Linked DNA regions of Homo sapiens: region 1 is linked to region 2. The links come from fine-mapping of genetic effects on gene expression. Tissue or cell type: spleen. Region 2 holds a variant in brackets; the other region holds the start of a gene. All regions are shown on one strand. Distances are from middle to middle.

Evidence for each region. PIP is the estimated chance that this variant, and not a neighbour inherited with it, causes the effect.
Region 1: it holds the start of KCNK17, and the variant in region 2 is fine-mapped to the expression of KCNK17 in spleen (GTEx, PIP 0.93).

What each region holds. Positions count from the first base shown.
Region 1 is chr6:39,313,168-39,315,758 of GRCh38, reverse strand. It overlaps KCNK17 (potassium two pore domain channel subfamily K member 17), which reads left to right and starts at 1,340. Exons shown (of 5, transcript NM_031460.4): 1 at 1,340-1,675. The coding sequence starts at 1,439. It overlaps LOC105375047 (a long non-coding RNA gene), which reads right to left and starts at 1,803. Exons shown (of 3, transcript XR_926774.3): 1 at 1,535-1,803. It also overlaps a transcript of KCNK16 not described here.
Region 2 is chr6:38,500,229-38,502,980 of GRCh38, reverse strand. All of the region lies in intron 6 of BTBD9 (BTB domain containing 9), which reads left to right. Among named protein-coding and RNA genes, the nearest start is that of BTBD9-AS1, 20 kb to the right of the region's middle. The variant C/T (reference allele first, on the strand shown) is at 1,539.

The sequences.
Region 1 (2,591 bases), 810 kb before region 2:
TTTAGTTGCTAGGCAAGCAAAGAGGCAGCCCCAACACAGTGCCCAAAATGCTATGATGGGAATAGCCCCAGGGTTGATGAGAGCCCATGGGAATGGCTGGCAGGGAGCATCAAAGAGAGGGGAGACCTGGGCAGAGACTTTGGAACAATCTTAGTGAAAAGAGGATCTCTGCCCTCAGGAAGCTCTCAGCCGAGGGGCAGGCGAGCTGCCTCTCAAAGCTCGCCAGCTCCCCTTGCCTAGAAGTCCAGGGCTGTCTGTGAACAAAGCTTAGGACCTCTTGGGTGTCCTACCCACTTTCCTGAACATGGCCTCCCCTGACCCTCACAGGCCACCCCCTTAACTTCATCACTCCCTCTGGGCTCCTGCCTTCTCAAGAGCCTTTCCAAACACCCCATGGGAAGCCAGAGAGCCAGCAGATCCCAGGATCCTTCCAGAAAGTGAGCTCCATGAACGTCTGGCCTCTCTCAGGAATGCATTCTCCAGGTCTGGCCTTTCCCCTGCCAGACTGCAACATCCCTGACCAGGAGAGATTTAGACCACTCCATCCCGGGGCCTGGAAATTTTGGCCTTTGCCTCTCCCATCATCCAACAGCAAGTGGGCTCCTATGTGGCTGGGTTCCTCTGCACAGGTCTGAGGCAAGGCTGTGGAGCCAAGGCGGCTCCAGGCAGGAGACCCAGGAGAGGCTCTACAGCAGCAAGAGGAGTCCAAGTCACACCCCAGGACTTCCCCATATCCAAGAAAGGACTGGGAAGCTGAGGACCCACGGACTCTTCACACAGCCTAGACGCTTCCTCCACTCCAGGTAGAGGGATTTCGGGGGCCTTCTCAGAAGCAAGGAGTGGACAAGCCTCTTGGTTAAGGCTCCTCTTACCTCCCAAGCTCATGGACAAGTGGCAATCAGCTGGGGTCCCTCTTTTGGGGTACAAAGGAAAGGACAGAGGTGTGGGAGACCCAAGGTGGTCTTGAGATTGACAGACAGCAAGTCCTTGGAGATAGCCCCCGAGTCCAAGAACTTAGGCAGGGGCCCCAAGACAATAAAGTTGGTCTCTACTATCTCCTACCTCTGAGTGCGGTTTCCAGAAGTCCCTCCCATTGTTCATTTCAGGAAATGTGAGGGGGCTCTGGGCCCCTTCCCTCAGCGCCTGCGGTCACCCAGCAGCTTCCTCCTTCTCCCTGGCCTAGGCCTAGCAGGTGGGCACCCCGCACACATTTGAGGCGGGGCCAGATGCCCACAGTTCAGAGCCTCTTTTTGTCCCGGGGATTGGATCCCAGGGCTGGGTGGGGCCAGGCTGTCCCATTCCCCAACACTCCTCCTCCCCGGCGAAACCGGGCACCAGCAGGCGTTTGCGAGAGGAGATACGAGCTGGACGCCTGGCCCTTCCCTCCCACCGGGTCCTAGTCCACCGCTCCCGGCGCCGGCTCCCCGCCTCTCCCGCTATGTACCGACCGCGAGCCCGGGCGGCTCCCGAGGGCAGGGTCCGGGGCTGCGCGGTGCCCAGCACCGTGCTCCTGCTGCTCGCCTACCTGGCTTACCTGGCGCTGGGCACCGGCGTGTTCTGGACGCTGGAGGGCCGCGCGGCGCAGGACTCCAGCCGCAGCTTCCAGCGCGACAAGTGGGAGCTGTTGCAGAACTTCACGTGTCTGGACCGCCCGGCGCTGGACTCGCTGATCCGGGTCAGGGGCGAGCGGCGTCGGCCTGGGCGCGGCGGGATGGGGTAGCGGGCCGCGGGGTGTACGGGCCGAGGGCGAGGGGGCCTATTCAGGCCCTGGTCAGGTGTTTCCTGTTCAGGGAAACGTCGGGAACGCAGACGCGGGCACAACGGGGGTGGGCGTTCCTGCGCGGGGACCAGAGGGTTGGGGGACCTCGGAGGAAAAGACCCTCGCCCTAGCGAGAGGACTGCGAGAAGCCGGGCTGAGTCCTACTTGGGGGCGAGAGGGCATGCTGGCCCGGTGAGGAGGCAGATGCCTGGGGACACATCCAAATTTGGGGGCGAGGACGACTACGGCAGGGGGCGCGCGCGTAACCGGCCCCGCCCGGCCTGACCCGGGAAAGGGCGCGTTTGAGCCTGCTTGGGGGTTGGTCGCACCCGCACCCGTGGCAAAGAGCTAAACGCCACACCTGGCCGCTTCCAGAGGGGGAACCCGGGCGCACGTTTGCGAACTGGGAGCTGGGACGGCAGGGGCGCCGGGTCTAAGGATGCGCAGGAGCGAGGGCGCGGCCGTAGGAGCCTGGGGGAAGGCGCGTTTGTCCCGGAGGGTGGGTGGATTGGGCCCGAGGCGTGCTGGTCGGGGCCACCCTCAACGCAGAGAGGGGGCTCGACGTGCGCAGACCCGGGTTCGAGAGGAGGGCGGACGCAGGGCCGCTCTCTGGCTGAACCCGCTTTACTCCGAGTCTTCGGACACAAGGACTGGGCGCGCCGCCGCCGCGCGGCTGCCCAGAAAGGCTGAAGGCAGGGTTCAGGGGAGGACTCAGAGGTAAATCTGAGCAGAGGCTCCTCAAGGGTGGGGCCTAGCAGGGCGGAGGAGGCCGGGGAGGGTTCTAGGGGTGGCGCATCTTAGGACTGAAGCGACGCCAGACTGGCAGCTGCTC
Region 2 (2,752 bases):
AGTGTGGAGCACCTACTTTTATATCACTTATCACATTGCGTTACAGTGATTTACCTGTTTTCCCTTTCAGAGTGTGAGTTCTTGGACAGTAAAGCTTATTTATCCTCTCTTCATGATCACCTAGAATAATGGCTGGAATGTAACAGGCACTCAGTTAACGTTCATTGAATTGAATCAAATTGCACAAGTATGGTCATTTTATTTTCCTAATAGCTCTTTCCCTTCATGAATCTGATGCCATATATTCTAAACAACTTATTCATTTCTGTGGGCACAGTGTGCTCATTAATGATAAGCCATCCTATTTCTGTGTTACGCAAGAGTAAGACCTGCGCAGAAGATGAAGATATCCTGCTCATCTCTGCAGGTTTGGTATTTGTGTATTTGCCTTGGGGATTTCTGTCAGCAGAATGTTTGCCTCGTTATTGACCTTGGTCTATAGGACATTCTCAGAGTCCTCTTCCCTTAGCATTCTTTCCCTTCAGAGCAAATGGTACTGGTCTTTGTGATTTGAACATGGTAGGAGGCTGGACATGGAAGAGAAAGCTTTTCTTTTAATAAAAACTCAACAAGCAAAATTTAAAAATCACCTTGCTTCCAAAATGTTGGAAATATTATACCAAAATGAAGAGAATACACCATGGAAAAAAAATGTACTCATATTGTTTCGTGGGTAGCAAAATGAAGGTAAATTAAGTGTTATTCATATTCCATGTCAGTAGCCAAAGCTCTGAAAGACTTCTTTAGGTTCCCTCTCAGACAGAATTATAGAATCTTCTGTTAGAACAGACCATGGTGAGCAGCTGGCCCAGCCACCCAAGCCAACATTTGAATCCCCTTTACAACATCCCCATCTGGCAGGTGTCCAGCATCAGCATCTCTAGGGATTAGCAGAGTTCTTGACAATAGAAACCAGCTTCTCATTGACACCAGGATATTGCAGATTGCTATCTCTATACCAGTAGTTCTCAAACTTTTGTTCCCAGGAGCCCTTTATTCTCTTAAAAATTGTTGAGGACCCCAAAGAGCTTTTGTTTATGCAGGATATGTCAATATTTATTTGTTGTCTTAAAAATACAACAGTAAACCCATTACATGTCAATATAGATATCATTTTTGATGAAAAATAACTATTTAAAAATTAATTTAATGGAGAGAGTAGCCTTGCAAATCTTAATGTCTGGCATAATAAAGAGAAGACTGCTGGATTCTCCATTTCTCATTCAATCTGTTGTGACAGAACAGGTGATGGAGCCTGTGGAAAGCTCAAGTGCACAGACATGGGAGGTAAATAACTTCTCTGAATTCAGAAGTTTTGATCTCACAGACCTCCCAGAAGGGTCTCAGGGACTCCCAGGAGTCCCCAGACTACATTTTGAGAACTGTTGCTCTCTTATACACCAAGGGATGGGATTGGTGATGTAAATTGGCAGGGACTGCAGTGAAAGAAAAACTAGATGCAAAAAGGGGCCAAGAAAAATGTACTCACATCTATGATCAACAAGTATTGAGTGTTTACTATGTGCCCAAGTGGAAAG[C/T]ACTGAAGATACAGGTTGAGTGTCCCTTATCTGAAATGCTTGGGACCAGAAGTGTTAAGGATTTTGAACTTTTTTTGATTTTGGAATATTTGTATTATACCTACTGGTTGAGCATTCCTAATCCGAAAACCTGAAATCTGAAATGCTCCAATGAGCATTTTCTTTGCTCATCATGTTGGCACTCAAAAAAGTCAGATTCTGGAGGATCTTGGATGCTTGGATCAGGGATACTCAACCTGCACTAACACTCGCGTCAGGTGTTCTCTGTCTTCTTCAATGTGAAGGCTCATTTTGGCCTAAAAAAATTTTTAGAACTGTAAGTTAACTTTTTAACTTACAGCATCCATTGAGAAAGTGAACAAAAAGCAACTGTGAATTTTGTTCTCGTTTTAATAAATTTCTGTTTTATTCATCACAGCAATATCTATGGACATTAGATAGAAAATTCATTAGAAAATGAATACTCTATATTGTATACATTAAACATTTGGTCTTCAGCCAGTGCTTTGTACCCATGGAGATCTGCAGAACCTTTGCAGATATATCTGTGCTTGGCCTCTGTACCTGCCATGTCGCCTATGACCCACAAGTTGGGAACTGAATTCACTCATCTGTTCTTGTCACTGGCATTAAAGACATTGAGTGATGGATTTGTTTTGGGGTTATTTTTAAGCCTTTAAGACTTTTGATGCCTTCAATTAAGATGGCCAGGTATCATAAAGAATTCATGCATGCGCTTCCGGGGCTTCTGGTTTTCTTGACTTGTCCTTATCTTGCTAAGAGCAATGGATAGGCATTTGCAGATCAGGCACTCTCACCTGCCCTGTAAGATGTTGCTCAGAGTTAATGGAAGAGAATTGTGTTGAGAGAGTTAATACTGAGTTAGAGAAAAGTGGAAGTGTGTAATAGTGCAAAGGGAGGAGTGAGAAATTAAATGGTATCTTTTTAGAAGTCTGCCTTATTGCAGTCTGCATTGCTCCTTGGGGATTTTTCTACTGAGTACAAGAAAATCAGCAAGCACTTTTTGAAAAACCCAGATGAAATTACTGCCGTAAATTTTTATTTTTTTTCATGGTATAAAACCCTTAATTTAGATGGGGAGGGTTTATTACCAGTGTTTTCTTGGCATGGCTAAATTCAATTAATTTCAGATGACAAGCTCCAGGTCCCCCCTACTACCACCCCTCTGCTGCCTTTTCCTCCCCCCTCCATCC